3 linked regions of the Homo sapiens genome follow. The protein of the gene in region 1 interacts with the protein of each later gene in a pairwise test. Each region holds a gene or a part of one and is shown in the gene's direction. Other genes may lie near its edges.

Region 1 (5,089 bases):
TGTTTCCTCTGTTTTGAAGAGTCTCAAGTCAAAGTCGTGGCCCTGTGTGCTGGTTCTGGGAGCAGCGTTCTGCAGGGTGTTGAGGCTGACCTTTACCTCACAGGTAGGACAGACTTTGGATCTCTCTTGGTTTATTTTTTGCAAAATCAAAAATGGCAAATTTTAGGACAGTACCTGGCACATAGATGATACCTAATTAATGTTTTCTGAACCTGAACTAAACAGAAACTACAACAGAACTGGGGACTTACTGCATTCTTTGTGGAGGGATGAAATCATTGAACAGTTTATTACATTATCTCAAAAGTTAATGGTCAGCATTTATTTTACCTACATTCTTCCTAAACTGTCCCAAACCTCTCAGATTTCACATCAGTGGGATACTTTCTACCCTGTCACCTTAGCTAGGAAATGGTTCCTTTTACTCAGCCTAAAGCCAATCATCAATTCCTATCAATTCAAGCTCCCAAATCTTTCTAGAATCTTCCCCCTTATCTCTATCCAGGCACCATCTCCTACTTGAAGTACAGCATCAACCCTCTAATGGTATCTTCCATATACTCTCCTGAAATTAACTTTTCAAAGTGCAAATTTGATGGTCTTGATTAAAAAGACTTCAGTGATTTCCTTCATCTGTCTGGTGGAGCCTGAACATTGCATCCCCTTTCCTGTACCCTTTGCTTATGCTGTTTTCTCTGGCTAGAATGCCTTTTCCTTGTACTCCTAGTGATAAGTGAACACCCCCTCTGAGAAGCCTTCTCTGACACTGTCCTGCTCCTGCCTCTTGTGGGTCCCTATCACTTTGTCCTTGACCTCCAATGTGCACTTCTGTTGGATAGTAATTGTCTGGCTGCTGGGCCTTATACTTTCTCATTTAGGATACTACCTAATAGGTCCTGGCTAATTTTTATTGAAAGAATTACTTTATGTAGTTACTACTCAGGAATATGGCCAAACATGGCCCCTTACACCTCCAAAGGATTTGGAGGCATTTTAAGGGGTTGCCACTTTGTTTACCTCCTCCTTCTTAGGGTTAGGAGAGAATGAGTTAAAGAATTACTTTTCCCACTTTGAGGACCAGGCTCTAGGCTCTTAGCCCTCTGGCCATTCCTTTGGCTACTTCCATGCTTCCCTTGCCTCCCACACCCACACTTTGTTATATAGCACACTCTCTTACAAAGGCTGCTGCACTCAAAGCATTGTCACATCCTGAAGTACCGAGGAGCAGCATCTGAGCAAGCCTGATGGAATTGCTCTAAACCAATAAATTGATTTAAAAAAACAAAACATGTATGTGACTATTACTTATTTTATATTTTCTGAAGATAAAAGATTTTTGTAAGCCCTTAAATTTCTACCAGATTAAAGTGAAATTTCAATATGAATATCTTACAGTATTGTGTCTGGCTATTTTAAAATTCATTTTAGCATTTTACTTAGGAATTTCAGACCTATGCAAAAGTTGCAAGAATAGTATACTGAACTCCTATATGCTCTTCACCTTGGTTACTATGGTTATATTCTGCCATATTTGTACATTCCCTATGTGCATATTATATATGTGTCTATACACATTTGTGTTTGCATGTATAGATACATAATATATACAAGTTAAAATATGTTCTATATATATATTGATGTATTTCCCCTAGGACCATTTTGTAATCAATTGCAGACATGACAATTTCTTTACCTCTCAATACTTCAGTGTATAGTCTAAGAACAAAGACATTCTAAGTCCATGGAACAATTATCAAACATGGGAATTTAATATTGTTAAAACACTTACTTGATATACAGTCCATATTCACATTTTCCCAATTGATAAAAGCTTATAGCATTTCTTTTTCTGATCCATATCCAGCCAATGATCTCACATTGCATTTAGTTGTTGTTAGTCTCCTTCAGTCTGGAATAGTTTCTCAGCTTTGTCTCCATAGCATTGACATTTTTAAAGAGTATAGGCTCTTTGTTTTGTGCTTCTCTCTCAATTTGGGGTATCTGTTTCCTTATACTTTTTTAAAAACTAGTTTTTTAAAACAATGATAAAGTATAATGATACGTGCATAAGATAAATTCAAGCAGTTCCAAAATGTTAAAATGTCCTTCCTATCTGGCTGTGGGGAGAAATAGAAAATATATTATCCGGCTAGCATTAGCTGTCTCTGGTCTGTGAGGCATCACTTTTGAGTATAACTTCAGAGATGTGAAGCCCCACCTAAAGGACCTCTGCTGAACTTCATCACGCTTCCTGTGAGCCTGAGGCCGTGTTCTCATTGTATTAGGTTGTTAAGGGTAATACCCCGTAAGACCAGCAGATGGGGAGCCTGCTCCTTGTAAATTAAGTTCTCCCATTTGTCTTTTCATTCTCCATTTGCTTATTCTTTCCCAAGCTGCCATCCTGGGCCAAGCTTTTCTTTCCATTGGCTTCAGCTATTATTGCAGGGTCTTCACTGATTTCCCCCCTTTCATGCCTTCTCCAGCCAATGAATTTGTCACAGTACAGGCAGCCAGACTTACCTTTCCTAAAACAAGGCTTCCAACTGGGCCATCTTAGTGTCTTTTTCTTGCTTTTTACTTCTACTATTATAGATTAAGATGTTTTAAAAGGTGCTTGAATAAAAACTGTTCCTTATAATGAGATGACACTTATTAGGAGGAGATTGTGGGGAACTAAAAAATTCTGGAATTAAGAAAACTCATTTTTTTACTTATAGGTGTTTTCTTATGGGAAAATTAAAAGAGAACTCATTTTTTTCCAAGAACCCTTTTTTCTTAAATTTATATGCCCTTCTGTCTCTAAATACAGTTCAAAATTGTACTTTTTAAAGAACAAACCTAATTGTACACAGTACAGTTTTGCTCTTAAATTAGAAGTCATCAAATTCACAAACTGCATTTTAAGAAATTCAGAATATTAGGCTGGACATGGTGGCTCACGCCTGTAATCCCAGCACTTTGGGAGGCTGAGGCGGGCAGATCACTTGAGCCCAGCAGTTCGAGACCAGCCTGGCCAACGTGGTGAAACCCCATCTCTACTAAAAATACAAAAATTAGCCAGGCATGGTGGTGGGTGCCTGTCATTCCAGCTACTCGAGAGGCTGAGGCAGGAGAATCACTTGAACCCAGGAGGCAGAGGTTGCAGTGAGCTGAGATCGTGCTACTGTACTCCAGCCTGGGTGACAGAGCAAAACTCCATCTAAAAAAAAATTAACAATATAAATTAAAAATTCAGAATATGAATTTTCCCCAAATCTTTTCACAACAGATGAGATTCCCTCCAGAGTTTCTAGGGATTTTGCTTAAGTCAAAGAAAAATACTTTGTTTTTAACCTGGAAGTAATCTTAAATTCATTTCATCCTTATATATTAGACTAAGTTGACGACAGAAATACTGGTGCTTACAAAGCATAAGTCTGCTGGGCAGTATACATATAATTTCCTCCAGAGGTATTTATTACTTACATAAGAGGCAAATTTTCTGAAGGCCTCATTTTACTTGGCAGTGATCATTCATTTTACCGTGGAAACACTTTGAATGGGTGTTTACAGATCTGGTTCTGGCCAGATATGTTGGATTGGATAATTGCCTTGGGGTCTGCTAAGGAAAAAGAAGTTGGAATTCTCAGTGGGATGGATTTTATTTTTATATTTTCAAGATAGTCTTACTCTGTCACCCAGGCTGAAGTGCAGTGGTGCAGTCTCGGCTCACTGCAACCTCCAGGCCCTGGACTGAAGCTATTCACCTGTCTCAGCCTCCTGAGTAGCTGGGATTACAGGCACGCACCACCACGCCCAGCTAATTTTTGTGTTTTTAGTAGAGATGGAAGTTTCACCATGTTGGCCAGGCTAGTCTAGCACTCCTTAGCTCAGGTGATCTGCCTGCCTAGGCCTCCCAAAGTGCTGGGATTACAGGCGTGAGCCACCGCGCCCAGACTTTTCTCTCTTTTTAAGTTGGAGGACATAAAAGAAAACTGTACACTACTTTCTAGATTTATATGTAAAACAGTTCTGCTCTATTACATTCACTTCATATAGACTACAAACTTGGTATTTCTGCTTTTGTGTTTCCTCATTCCACAGATTCCATATTTAGCATTTAAGAATTTGCTCTTCCCTTTTTGGTAGGTGAGATGTCCCATCATGATACTTTGGATGCTGCTTCCCAAGGAATAAATGTCATCCTCTGTGAACACAGCAACACTGAACGAGGCTTTCTTTCTGACCTTCGAGATATGCTGGATTCTCACTTGGAGAATAAGATAAATATTATCCTATCAGAGACTGACAGGGACCCTCTTCAGGTGGTATAATTGCAGAAACATCAGGATAACACATTCTACAAATCAGCTGGATGCCAACTTAAATTTGTAACATGAGTCAGTGGGACTGGTGTGCTTCCAGAGAGTGTCTTCGAGGGTATCATCATTTCCGGTTTGTTAATCTTATTCACCAAATGTTCTATCGCTCGTAAGGTAAAACTGTAATATAACTACCATATTAAATAACAAATGTTCATTATAAACTCTAGGAAAGATTGAATAAAATCTGTTTACTTAACATTCTTTGGAAGGAGCTCAAGTGATTCTGTCCTTAGTTTAATTGTAGATGGGATGGATCCATTTGGGTATCTCTGCCCTTGGTTAGTTAACATTATGCTTGAAAAACTTGGGCTTGAACACTTCTAGGTAGTAGCCTTTTTGCAGTGATAAGAAGTTCTGTTTGTCCTTGTTCCTAGTTCTGCCTACATTCCAGTCTCTCACCTAAATTTCAGAATCAGAATGAGATTTATCAGGATGTTGTTTTGAAAATATGTATACACAATCATTATTCATATTACTGTTACTTTATTGCTTTTTAGATGACTTACCTGTAATTTTTTTTTCTTCCACAGTCCTTTGTTCCCGATTTCTGCTCTGTCACTTCCCTCTCCTGGCAATGAACTTGGCTGCCGCAGGCAGGGGGCAGGGCCAGGGAATGAAATTCCAGAGCAGAAAGAACAAAGTCAGATATCTCAAAATATCATCCTGCCCCATTTAATCTGGGCCTTTTATCCATGTGGATGCCCCTTTCTAAACAGCACCTGCGC
Region 2 (7,034 bases), on another chromosome or scaffold:
TTCAAGTAGCATTTCTTTTCTTTCCTTTCTTTTTTTTTTGAGACAGAGTTTTGCTCTTGTTGCCCAGGCTGAAGTGCAGTGGTGCAATCTTGGCTCACTGCAACCACTGCCTTCTGGGTTCAAGTGATTCTCATCCCTCAGCTTCCAAGTAGTTGGAATTACAGGTGCATACCACCACGCCCAGATAATTTTTGTATTTTTAGTAGAGATGGGGTTTCACCATGTTGGCCATGGCTGGTCTCGAACTCCTGACCTCAGGTGATCCACCCCCCCTTGGCCTCCCAAAGTGCTGGGATTATAGGTGTAAGCCACTGCACCTGGCCTGAAGTGGCATTTATGTTTACAGTGCAAGGGGAAGTGTATGGGCTAATAAGAAAATTGATTTAAAAATTCTAATTTATCATTATGTTCCCCATCATCTAAAGCCATCATGTCCCTAGAGTACCACCAACTGACCAACCCTTTATCCCCGATTAGGGCTCTGGAGAAGTTCCTCTTATACCCAGTTGATTTGGTTTAATTTTTTTGTGTGTTGTTTATTACTTAAAATGCCTGCTAAAAATGCATTTTATATAAAAACTGGTATTGTTTTTAAAAAGTATGAATCATTTTTTATAATTATCTTTTTGTTTCTTTTACAATTCAGGTATACTACTTTGAGTAGTTTTTCAGATTTTTAGTGTATCTGAAAACAGTAATTTAGTTATTTTAATTATGTAACTCAAGGAAATATAACTTTAAGATTAGTTTTCAATTCAACTGGTTAATCATGAACATTTGGGGAACACTTTTGCCATGCCGAATGAGGAAAACAATTATTATTTAAAACAGATGGTTTGATTGAATTCAAGTAATAATTTACATACTCAGAATCAAATTACATAATTATTTCAACAATCATGTATTTTTATGAATTTCAATATATTGTTTATAGCTATCTGTGCTCTAAAGCAAAACAGCATGTTTTAGACAATGCAACAAGATTTTTAAAGTTACTTATTGATATAACATATTAACTTTTGCCTTTAATTCAATAACCCAACAAGATTTTAAACCATCAAGAATGGGTATGGTTAGAGAGTCACATATTGAAGAGATAACAGCAGAGCATCCTCTGTATGTGCTTAGTGCATTGCTAGCTAAGGCACTAAGGAGGAATGCTTAAGCCCAGGAATTTGAGGTTACAGTGAGCTGTGATCGCACCACTGTACTCTAGCCTGGGTGACAGAGCAACACCCTGTCTCTAAAAGGGAAAAAAAATGATATAACCCTCACTTGTAAGTACCCATTTGAAACAATCTCCATGATAAATTATTAAATTAAAAAAGCAAGGTGCTGAAGAATTGGTAAAGCAGGCCATCAGCGCATTTAAAAATTGTATGTATGTGCTATGTACATAAGATAATATGCATGTGTATGTACAGACTATCTTTGAAGGAATATTTCTAACTCTGGTTGCAGCTTGGTGATTAGGGCATAGGAGTGGGAAGGACACTTCTTTTTTACTGTACACCCCCTTTAACCACTTGAATTTTGTTCAGGTGCGTGCATTACCTGCTAAACATTTTATTTTATTTTTTCTTTTGAGACAGAGTCTCGCTTTGTTGCCCAGGCTGGAGTGCAATGGTGCCATCTCAGATCATTGCAACCTCTGCCTCCCGGTTTCAAGCAATTCTCATGCTTCAGCCTCCTGAGTAGCTGGAACTACAGGTGCACACCACCACACTCAGCTAAGTTTTGTATTTTCAGTAGAGATAGGGTTTCACCATGTTGGCCAGGCTGGTCTCCAACTCCTGACCTTAGGAGATCCACCTGCCTCAGCCTCCCAAAGTGTTGGGATTACAGGCGTGAGCCAACACACCCAGCCCTGTTAAACATTTTTTAAAAAGTCAGCGTCACTTAATGTGATGCTAGGTGTTAGTGTAGGGCTAAGAACCTGTGTGCTTAAAATGAAAAAAAGTTACTATGATTAAATTTTAAAAATTGTACTCTAGAGTATGACATTTTAACAAACATTTATTGTGCAACTCGTAGGCATTGCCAAGCACTGTTTTAGGCACTTGAGAGTCACAGAAAAAATATTCATTCTTGTTTCTCTCAGAGATGGCATAATTCTACCAAGAATGGAGTCCCATAAATGATCTAGGGCTACTATTTGATTTTTAAGATAACTAGCAAAGTGCGTAGCAAATAGTAGGGGCTCATAGACATAGGTTCACTAAAACTCTACCACTTATTATGTGTGATTTTAGGCCAATTAATTAATCAAGCTCCAGTTTCTTTAGTAAATTGGGACTATAGTAATGCCACTTCAGGACACTGTTTTGATGATTAGAAAATATATAATGCATATAAATTACTTAGTACGGTGCTTGCCATGAAATATAGCACAACTGTTACCTATTTTTATAAATTAGTGTTGTTTGTAAGTTTTCCTTTCAAATCATGGGGTAAAATCACCTAAAACTCAAAGTGCAAGAATCAATACTATAGTAGCTGTAGCAGTTTGAGACAGAAAGCGCAAGAAGAATGAGCAGGGAATGATTGGTGATAACTGAGCTGGGCCTTGAAGAGCAGATGGAATTCCAGTAGGTGGAGAAATGAGGAGGGCGTTTTAGCCAGAGGGGCAAAGGCAAGGTGTGGATGCAGGGGATGTTTTGGGAATGGAGGGGAGCAGGCTGGTTCAACTACAGTGCGTGACGAGGAGTCTGTGTGGAAGGAGTGTTGGTAGGAGATGAGGGCACCAAGTAAGCGGCACTTGGCCCTGGGAGTTCTTGCAGGCCATGCTTGAAAGTCGGGATTTATCTTCCAGTATTAAAGGTGGACACCAGACGGCAGAAGCCTGAAGAGAGGATAGGGAGGAAGTCGGAATAGGAATAATGAAGAGAGAGATGGCAGCTGTACTTGAGAGCGGCCATAAGGTCAAGGGGAAAATTAAAGGCACCAGGTAGAGATGGAGGTCTTAAATGAATGAACAAGCAGAGACAGCCGGGGACAAAATCAAGATGTGGGGTTAGCTTCCTAAAGGCATATAGTTCCTTCTGAGACAGGCAGAAAAGGAGAAAAATGGTGAGGATCTAGATGAGGTGAGTTGTGGAGGGAAGGAAAGTTGAGGGGCTTCGTGTCTACTGGCTTCTATTTCTTGACATTTGGAATGAAATGACCTGCTGAGAGTGTGTGTGCCTGGAGTGGGATTTTAAGGGTTAGGTGAGGGGTGAGGTGAGATGAGAGGTGAGGATTTGGACTATCCACTGTGGGAAATGGAAAAAAGAACTGTGGGAGGAGTGGAGGGCTGGCTGAGCAAGCTATACTGAGGTCCAGGTGATGGCTTGATGCTGAAAGCTGGTCTCAGGTGAGGGCTGCTCATGGGGCCCCGTGGTTCTCTCTAATAGCAGCTGGGACCCTGGAAGCAAAAAGAGAGGCAAAGGTGATCACATCTACCCAGTGGCAAGGGCTGCGGGAATTGAGGGTGCTGGCGTGAGTGTACCTGATTCAATGGGGGATAGGGGAGAAAGTGAAACCTGGGAAAAATTGCTTGTGTCAGTCTTAAGAGAAAAGGGTGGGGTCAGGCACTTGGTGGGGGCCAAGGATCAGAAAGCAGGTGCATGGGAATGGGAAAGGAAAGATGATGGAACACAGTATGTTGGGCTGCAGGCACAGCACTTCAGAGCTCAAGATTTTATAGGATTATTTTGTTGTTTTTCAGAATGCATTGTTTAAAAATTATCTTAATATTTTCGTAACAGAAAATGATTTCTGTTTTTTTTTTTTTTCCACAGATCATGAGCAGTGTGCCTAGGGCTTAAGGGAAATTTTCCTTTCTTTTCTTGAGAGCTTTGTTAAGGGCTTATAATATTGCTAAAGGGTGAGCTCAGAGTTTACAGAAATGCTGAGAAAAGCAAGGTTTTAACAAAGGCACAGGAAGTCTCAGGCAGTTCCCTAGAAACTGTAGATTTTCCTCATAGGAAAAAAAAAGCTAATATAAGCTTAGTGGTTTATATTTTTTTTCCTTTGCTTTTAAAGGTAAAACCAGTAATCCATAGCAGGATCAACGTGTCAGCTCGCTTTAGAAAACCGCTTCAGGAGCCGTGCACTATCTTGTAAGTTGAAACCCTTTATACTTCAAGTTAAAATTGGCTTGGTGGTTTCCTTTTGGTTTGGAATTTGTGTTGTAGTTTTCAAGGCATAACTGTTTCAGAAGGTTTGCCCCCTGTTTTCCAGCTTGATTGCAAATGGAGACCTCATAAACCCAGCTTCTCGCCTCCTTATCCCCAGAAAAACCTTGAATCAGTGGGATCATGTACTACAAATGGTCACAGAAAAAATCACTCTGAGGAGCGGGGCTGTTCACAGGTATGTCAAAACAATCTTGTAAGTGGAGGAGTTTTTGAATTGTTGAAGATATTCTCAGGAGGCTCCGGAGTCACTGGTCTGTGGATTTGAATTTTGGCTCCCCAGTTAGGCCCCGTATGCCTCAGTTTCTTTATCTGTAGAATGGAGATATACCTCATAGCGTTGTTTAAAATGAGGTAATCCACATACAGAGCTTAAAACAGTCATTGGCACATAGTAGCACATCTACAAATATTAACGATTTTTATTCTTTGATTTAGAGTGACTAGGCAAACATAACTTTAGTTGAGAAGGATTTTTTGAAAGAGCCAGCCCCTTAACTTTTTTTTTTTTTTTTTTTTTTTGAGATGGAGCCTTGCTCTGTCGCCCAGGCTGGTGTGCAGTGGCACGATCTCAGCTCACTGCAAGCTCCGCCTCCCGGGTTCACGCCATTCTCCTGCCTCAGCCTCCCGAGTAGCTGGGACCACAGGCGCCCACCACCACGCCCGGCTAATTTTTTGTATTTTTAGTAGAGACGGGGTTTCTCCATGTTAGCCAGGATGGGCTCGATCTCCTGACCTCGTGATCCGCCCGCCTTGGCCTCCCAAAGTCCTGGGATTACAGGCTTGAGCCACCAAGCCCGGCCCAGCCTCTTAACTCTTAATTGTCCGTTTTTTTTTTTTAAAGGGGTCATTTATGATTATTTGATAGTTTAAACTATTTGCCTAGGGTAAAAATCAGATATCAGGAAGTATTAGTGCATTTAAAGAGGAGGCATAGAAAGAATAATTTAGTGGGGTTGTCTAAATGTAAGAAGTCAAAAGCATTTTTTTCAGGTTCCAACATTTAAGTGAAGATTAACATCATAGATTTAAATTGTGAAGCCTATGAAATTATCCCTTGATGGAGGCTGACATTTATTTTCCGTCAGATGGGAGGGTTACAAATAACATATACATGTGCACAACATATTAAAAGTATGTATATGTATATACTGCTTTAGCAGAGTACACTGTTTCAAGTGTTTGTGTTTTCATACACACGTGATAAAATAGTTCTCAAATGATTGCATATTACGTCTTTCAGGTAAATGTGTATGCAGATTAATGTTTGTATATTTACACATATTAATATCCACAGTCTCATAGTCATTGAGATTTTAAATATAATTAGGTGTTTTAATTGAAAGGAATACTTTACATGTGGCAAAAAATTCAAATACGATATAAGTAAAGAGCATTTCTCCTATCTTAGGCATGTCCAGTCCTTCTCCCTAGTACTTTTCAGCATCATCCCGGAAATATTCTATGCATGTGCAAGCATATACATTTTTAATTTTTAATTTCATTTTTTTGAGACAGGGTCTCGCTGTGTCACCCAGGCTGGAGTGCAATGGTGTGATCTCAGCTCACTGCAGCCTCGATTGTGCAGACTCAATTGATACTCTTACCTCAACCTCCCAAGTAGCATGCACCACAACGTCTAGCTTTTGTTTTTTTTTTCTTTTTTGTAGAGATTAGATTTTGTCATGTTGCCCAAGCTGGTCTTGAACTCCTGGGGTCAAGCAATCCGCCCGCCTTGGCCTCCCAAAGTGCTGGGATTACAGGTGTGAGCCACTGTACCTGGACCACTTTTTAAAAACATTAAATGGAAATGCATACATATGTATAAATAAATAAATACATGTATACAAACACCCCCTTGATTTTTTCCTATAATAAATCTTAGAGATTATTCTTATCAGCACAGATACCTCTATTTTATTATTTTTAATGACTACAAAGTATTTTATTTATTTTTATTTTTATTTTTTTTTGAGATGGAGTTTCACTCTTGTTGCCCAGACTGGAGTGCAATGGTGGGATCTTGGCTCACTGCAACCTCCACCTCCTGGGTTCAAGTGATTCTCCTGCCTCAGCCTCTCAAACAGCTGGGATTACAGGCGCCTGCCACCATGCCCATCTAATTAAAAAAAATTTTTTTTCGTAGAAACTGGGTTTCACCATGTTGGCCAGGCTAGTTTCAAACTCCTGACCTCAAGCAATCCACCCGCCTTGGCCTCCCAAAGTGCTAGGATTACAGGTGTGAGCCACTGCGACTGGCCCAAAGTATTCTATTTTAACACAAAGTATTCCAAATCCTAATTTTTTCATTAAGAAATTTTTAGTTGGGCAACATCTCATTTTATAAAATAGAATGAGTGTTCCCAACTTAATTTTTTAGACCAGTTACCTCTTTTTTATAATTTCATTTGTTTATTTTAGGTTCAGGGAATACATTTGCAGGTTTGTTACATGGGTATATTGCATGATGCTGAGATTTCGGGTACAGATGTTGTCACCCAGGAAGTGAGCATAGTACCCAATAAGTAGTTTTTCACTCTATTTCCCTCCCCTCTCTAGCAGTCAACAGTATCTACTGTTCCTATTTTTATGTCCATCTGTACCCAATATTTAAGCTCCCACTTACTAGTGAGAATAAGTAGTATTTGGTTTTCTGTTCCTGCATTAATTTGCTTAGGATTATGGCCTCCAGCTGCATCCATATTGCTGCAAAGGACAGGATTTCAGTATTTTCCTGGCTGCGTAGTATTCCATGGTGTATATACACCATATTTTCTTTATCCAGCCCACCATTGATGGAGCACCTAGACTGATTCCACATCTTTGCTATTGTGAATAGCACGGCAGTGAACGTACCAG
Region 3 (7,006 bases), on another chromosome or scaffold:
CACCTCTAAATTTTTATATTAAAGTCCTAAGCCCAATACCTCACAATTTGACCGTATTTGGAAATAGAGCCCTTAAAGAAGTGACTAAGTTAAAATAAGGCCATTGGGGTGGGCCCTAATCCAATCTGACTGGTGTCCTCAAAAGAGGAGGAAATTTGGACACACACAAGAGATCCAGGGGCACGTGTGCACAGAGGGATGACTATGTGAAGAGGCAGCAGTAGGATGGCCATGTGCAAGTCAAGAAGAGAAGCCTCAGGAGAAGTTAAAACTCTGAGAAAATAAATATTTGTTGTTTAAGCTACTCAGTCTGTGGTATTCTGTTATGGCAGCCCTAGCAAACTAATACGGATACTAAAATGATGAACAAGTCCACCATTTAATTAATCTTGAAAAATACATGGGAATATAGAAGTGGATATACTGTGGATCACGGAGCAATAAACCCAACTCATAAAATGGAGAAAATCAAACCTCTTGGTGGGAAGGTGTGTTCATAAAAAATTTGAAAAAGCCCCAAAAGTGATTATGAATTTCCTTCTCTTCTCACTTATAAACACTATCTTAGTCCTAATCATATGCAAAAGTGTGCATAAATGAGGGCAAGGTTAGGTCGCTGTTTCTCTTGGCCAGTCAACCAGTTCTATTCATACTTTTTTTTTTTCCAGTCAATGAAAGGGACACTTTATTGAGGCTCCAGGGCCATGGGGCCTGGGCAGGAGGCTGCCCTCCGAGGAAGGAAGAGCCTTATTTGACCTTCTTGGGGTGCAGGTTGTTGGTGTGGCCACACTTCTTCTTGCGGCAATTGACAGCATAGGGGTGCAGGAGAGCATAGCGCTTATGGCAGATCATCTTGTTTCAGCTGTATTTCTAGGTGAGCTGGAAGAGTGAAGGCTCAATAATGCCACCTCGCAGGTGCAGCACCAGGTGCGGGGTGGGCTGTTTCTGGACGTTGTAGTCTGAGAGAGTGCGGCCATCCTCCAGCTGTTTGCTGGCAAATATCAGACGCTGCTTGTCAGGGGGGATACCCTCCTTGTCTTGAATTTTCGCACTGACATTCTCAATGGTGTCACTGGGCTCGACCTCAAGGGTGATGGTCTTGCCCGTGAGGGTCTTCACAAAGATCTGCATCTCTGTGTCTGCAGCTCGGCTGCCTCGCTGAAGAAAAAGAGGATGGCAGATCTGTTCATACTTCTATATCAAGGTCATATACAGACAATTTCACCAACTAGAATATAAAAATATTATTACTAGTGATCTGAGTTATGTGCAACATTGGAATGGATGCCACTCATTCCCTTCTACTGACCTCCAAAATTCTATGCCAATTTACCATTAACTTTCTCTTTCTTTCTTCTCAATTATAAATTCTCCACCTTATTAAAAGACATGGCTCTGACAATTCCAAGTTTCAGCTGCCCACTATGTTCCCATCCACTTCATCTTTTAAATGTGTTTAAAGCATTAACAACAGATTGTGTTTCACCCTAGAGACAGCTGGGTTTCAAGGAGAGGTAAAATGTTTCATAATCTCACTCTATTGTCCAAGACAAATGTGCTATTGTATTACATGTGAAATGTCATCTTTGAAGTCTGGTAAGGGTGTGCTGTGAGGTGAGCCATCTGGAAAACACAGTGTAGACTGAAAAATAATTATAAGCCAGTTTATTACTTTTTTCCAGTTAAGCCTACCATGACAGCTGCTAAAAAAAACACTATGTAGTATAAAGGGTAAAAAGACTCTGAAGTCGCAAAAGTTATACCCACCTCCAACAATGATTAGCTAGTATACAAGTCACTCAAATTCTCTGATCCTTTTGGCTTGTCTGTAAAATTGAAATATGGACACATGCCACAGAGGAGTTTTATGAGTATTAAATGAAACAACAGCTGTAAAGCACTTCGTACAGAGTACACAATAAGTTTGATTTCTCTTCTCGTCTTCTAAATATAGACTATATAATATTCTTTATACAGAGAATATTAGATAAAATCCAATCATATTTGAAAACCAGGTTGAGCAGGTTGGTTTTTCAAAGAAATTCATTGAGCTTCCATAATGTCCTTTCTATTTGACGGGAGAAAAGGGGCTTTGGAAGATCAAGTGTGAAGCTTTAGAATTCTGTCTGGAGCTGGTTAGGACCACCCAGGCCTGAGTATAAGCAAAGCGCTGTCCGTGGTGCTAGTAAGCGCGAATGCCCCCGGCAACGTTTTCCCTACCCAAAGTTGTTTTTCATTCAGTCAACTTGCTTCGCGAAGCTCACACATCTGCCTCGTGCAAGATTCTCAGTCATTTTACTTAGTCATTGGTTCTTTCCCTATCACCATTCTTTATGTCCCCCTCAAAGAAAAACATTATCTTCCATTTCCTTATCAACTCCAAACAGCTTTCATTTTTCTGACATATTTACTACCTAAGAAAATGGCTCAAGAATTGGGTCAGACTATCTTGTCCTAACTTTTCTGATAAGTTTCAGAGAAACTCAAAGGTCAAAACAAGAGCATAAGAGTAAAAGGTAGAGAAATTAAGAAACTGAAGACTAGGAAATGGGGGTTGGATGGGAAAGAAAAAGAAATTGTTATTAATGCTACCCGGTTCCCTTCCCTGTCCAGGTGGATTTCAGCTCTGTTGAGGCTCTGTCAGTAGATTTTCAGCCCTAACCAGCACTTCCATGGTGGTGGCACTTCCACTGCCTTTAAAAGAAAGAGCTTTTTTTAATTCTACAGGGATTTGGGGGATGAGGAGTCAGAGCTAAGGTATCCTAAAAAAAACATGTGAAGACTCTCATTTTGCAATACACAAGCAATTGCCCTCCTGTTAAGACTTTGTCTTCCTCAGCACTCCGAACCAAAATGATTCTGTAAACAAAAATTGTTCACTTTTAGGAGAGGTCCACTTATGCAGTTCCTCACCAAAGTTTTTAGGCAACAAATCCATAACTTGCGGTTCTCTTCCTATCCAATGTAGCATCCGCTGAAATGTTTTAAATATTTTAAGTAATAAATGTTGATTCAAACTCACCTAGGAAGATTAGGAAGGGGAAAAAAAGCACTTGGCATTTAAATCTTCAGAAGAGAATTTAATGACAGGTTCAGCCTGTTTAATGACAAGCCCAGCACCACACCCCTCTCTTATGATGTTTCATTATTACTGCATAAATTTCCTTTATTACTCATGATAAATAAAAATAAGATACCTGACAAAGTGGGTTTAAATAGGTAAGAGTGCAAACAAAGATTTACTGTACAAATATGATGAAACTGGGATCTCAGATTCTTAAAGTATAATTTTTTTTTGTCTTATGTGTGCCAGGTTGCCACTCTCAATCTCGAACTAGTTTTTTTCTCTTTTAAGGGTTGTATCCATAATGCAAAAATGGAAAGAATTAAAAAGCACACGCAAAACATGATTCTCGGGATTTTTCTCTATTTTTATGGTTGACTAATTCAAACAGAAAGACACATCCAAGAGAAAATTGCTAAGTTTGATACAAGTTATGAAACTTGTGAAGCCCAAGTACTGCCTGGGGATGAATTTAACTTGTATGACAGGTGCAGAGCTGTCGCTTTCAGACATCTTAAGAAACACGGAGTTATTTTGAATGACTTTCTCTCGGTCACAAGGGAGCCACCAACGTCTCCACAGTGAAACCAACTGGCTGGCTGAAGGAACAGAAATCCTCTGCTCCGCCTACTGGGGATTAGGAGCTGAGGGCAGTGGTGAACATTCCCAAAATATTAGCCTTGGCTTTACTGGACATCCAGCGAGCAGTGCAGCCAGCATTCCTGGCGGCTCCCTGGCCCAGTCTCTGGCGCATGCGTCCTAGCATCTTTGGGCAGGCTTCCCCGCCCTCGTGACGCGTCGGCCCGGGCCTGGCCTCCCGGCGATCACAGCGGACAGGGGGCGGAGCCTAAGGGGGTGGGGAGACGCCGGCCCCTTGGCCCAGCTGAAAACGGAATTCTTTGCCGGCTGGCTCCCCACTCTGCCAGAGCGAGGCGGGGCAGTGAGGACTCCGCGACGCGTCCGCACCCTGCGGCCAGAGCGGCTTTGAGCTCGGCTGCGTCCGCGCTAGGCGCTTTTTCCCAGAAGCAATCCAGGCGCGCCCGCTGGTTCTTGAGCGCCAGGAAAAGCCCGGAGCTAACGACCGGCCGCTCGGCCACTGCACGGGGCCCCAAGCCGCAGAAGGACGACGGGAGGGTAATGAAGCTGAGCCCAGGTCTCCTAGGAAGGAGAGAGTGCGCCGGAGCAGCGTGGGAAAGAAGGGAAGAGTGTCGTTAAGTTTACGGCCAACGGTGGATTATCCGGGCCGCTGCGCGTCTGGGGGCTGCGGAATGCGCGAGGAGAACAAGGGCATGCCCAGTGGGGGCGGCAGCGATGAGGGTCTGGCCAGCGCCGCGGCGCGGGGACTAGTGGAGAAGGTGCGACAGCTCCTGGAAGCCGGCGCGGATCCCAACGGAGTCAACCGTTTCGGGAGGCGCGCGATCCAGGTAGCTGGGGCCCCAGGGCCTCGCCGGCAGGGGGCGCGCGAACGCGGGGCGCGGCCTCGGCGGATCGGGGCTGGAACCTAGATCGCCGATGTAGATTTGTACAGGAGTCTCCGTTGGCCGGAGGTGTGCATTCCACGCGTAAAACAGGCTTTTACCCAGCAAAAATCCTAAAGAGAGACATTGAAAAACCCACTGTTTAAGCTTTTTTTAGTGGTTTTTGTTCTGCCATCTCATGATCAGAGATGCAAGGAATAGACTGAATTGGGGAGAAAAGGAGAAAAGGAAAGCTTATTTAGGGAAGAAGATTATCTTGTCTGTCTGCTTTCAACGATAAAGATAAGTAAAGTATAAGTTACGCATTCTAGATTGGATTTAAGGAATTCTACAAAATCATAGTACATGGAAAAAATCAATGTAAACTTCTAAGCTACTATATGAAATCTGTTGTATTGTTTTCTCATAGAGGTTAATTGAGAATGAGACGGGATTCCTCAACCACAGTACTTAGTTCCTTTTATGTTAGCAGTGTCTTATGAGTGATGCATAAGAGAAAAAATATATAGTTCTATAGGTTTCTCATTCTTTAATTATCATACTCAGTGCCCAGATTACAAAAATATTCCTGCAGCAACTGTTAGGTCCTTTTTGAATGGCAAAGGATCTTCATAAATAATGCATCTTTATCTTCATTGTTAAAATACACTTATTCAATGTTTAAGTACGAATCCTGCTTTAATTAGTACTGATATTTTTTATTTCTTTTACAATCTCGGACAACTCTTTTGTACTTTACCGTTGGCTAGTGGTCATATTCAGTACTCACCTCACTATCACCCTCTAAAACTAAGCTAATATTAAGGGATCTTGTTAATAGTATAGATTTTAAAGAAGTGTTCATTTCTTTTGAATTCTTAGAATAATGGTATAACAAATGAGGGATTTTTAAAGGAGCAAAAATATTGTAAAGTGCATCTTAAAAACTTAAAATTTTATTAATAATTATAAAAACAAGTTATATATGTAATTCACCATTTTCTGAAATACTAACAGCAGCTATTTTCCCCTTTTTTTCTATGTAAAATATCCTTACATCACTAGTAGATATAACTTATCACGGTTTTTAAGAGATGAAATGAACATTTCTAATATTAATGAAACAAGCCAACAAAACATGAGAAGTATACTGCCTTTCAATTAAATGGTATATTTTAAAGTGCATAAACCCATAACAAATAACTCGATTTTAGACATTTAGTTACCAAAAATTGTCTTATAATTGACTTTAAATATGACAGCAAATGTTTTCATAATGTTCATGTACACAAATGGCTGCTACAGGATTACTCCTGCAAAACATCATTTTTTCTAAGTTATGCATCATCCTGATTGACTGCTAACATCCAAGCTCTATTTATTTATTTATTTATTTTATTTTTTTTGAGATGAGGCCTCACTCTGTCGGACAGGCTGGAGTGCAGTGGCACAATCTCAGCTCACTGCAACCTCTTCCAGGATGCAAGCGATTCTCCTGCCTCAGCCTCCTGAGTTGCTGGGACTACAGGCACGCCCCACCATGCCCAGCTAATTTTTTATTTTTTGTAGTAGAGACGGGATTTCACCATGTTGGCCAGGCTGGTCTCGAACTCCTGACCTCAGGTGATCTGCCTGCTATGGCCTCCCAAAGTGCTGGGATTACAGGCATAAGCCACTGGGCCTGGCCCAAGCTCTTTTTATATAGCAAAATATTTACTGTTTAACATTTTTAAATCTTAGCTATTATAAAATCCTGTAGTATACAAATATAGTTAGTTTTATATTACATTAAAAATATTATAGTCTAAATTTAAAATGATGAACTGTTAAGGAAAAATCATTTATTATAATTTTATAAGATTTTGCATGATTTAATTTACTTTTCCCTTCTAATCTCCAACTTTGGCTCAAATTATCACACTACAAGCCAGTTATGAGCTCAGACACATGACAAACAAAAGCCTTCCGCACGGGATTTGCTATGAGAACTAAATAAATTAAAAAAAAAAGAAAGAAAAAAACTTAGTTGTTTATTTTCTCCCCTAAACCATTACTCCCAACTTCTAACAAACAGTAGTTGACTACCTAATAAATATTTGTAGACCTGGATTATGGAGGAGGGGTCAGCAAGGCAAATAATTTAAAACTTTAAAAGCCGAATAAATTTAACTCTGCCCCTAAATCATTTAACAAAATAGATTCCCATGTTCCAATGGAAATCAAGATTTGTTTTTCCATAATGATGATCATCACTTTACCATCAACTTTCTTGTCTCTGCACGTTTAGAGAATAAAATGGCATTTAATTTGTACTGAGTATAACCTGAAGGTGGGGTGGGAAAGTGGATTGCATCAGCAAATGAAGAAACACCAGACATCAGAGACCTGAACACCTCTGCACTGGGTGAAAACTTTGCAATTAGGTGTTTCTTTAAATGGCTCCACCTGCCTTGCCCCGGCCGGCATCTCCCATACCTGCCCCCAC

Evidence for each region. Proteins that work in one complex are often made in the same cells at the same time.
Region 2: the proteins of NIF3L1 (region 1) and DCDC2 interact in binary tests that used the Homo sapiens proteins (3 or more experiments, as listed by UniProt).
Region 3: the proteins of NIF3L1 (region 1) and CDKN2B interact in binary tests that used the Homo sapiens proteins (3 or more experiments, as listed by UniProt).

What each region holds. Positions count from the first base shown.
Region 1 is NC_000002.12:200,899,366-200,904,454, forward strand, and holds the end of NIF3L1 (NIF3-like protein 1), read left to right. Parts: intron 1-19; coding exon 20-103; intron 104-4,128; coding exon 4,129-4,313; 3' UTR 4,314-4,560; downstream 4,561-5,089. UniProt on the Homo sapiens protein: May function as a transcriptional corepressor through its interaction with COPS2, negatively regulating the expression of genes involved in neuronal differentiation.
Region 2 is NC_000006.12:24,299,034-24,306,067, reverse strand, and holds part of DCDC2 (doublecortin domain-containing protein 2), read left to right. Parts: intron 1-4,023; coding exon 4,024-4,100; intron 4,101-4,221; coding exon 4,222-4,353; intron 4,354-7,034. UniProt on the Homo sapiens protein: Protein that plays a role in the inhibition of canonical Wnt signaling pathway. May be involved in neuronal migration during development of the cerebral neocortex. Involved in the control of ciliogenesis and ciliary length.
Region 3 is NC_000009.12:22,006,280-22,013,285, reverse strand, and holds the start of CDKN2B (cyclin-dependent kinase 4 inhibitor B), read left to right. Parts: upstream 1-3,980; 5' UTR 3,981-4,332; coding exon 4,333-4,488; coding exon of another isoform or gene 4,489-4,569; exon of another isoform or gene 4,570-4,611; intron 4,612-7,006. UniProt on the Homo sapiens protein: Interacts strongly with CDK4 and CDK6. Potent inhibitor. Potential effector of TGF-beta induced cell cycle arrest.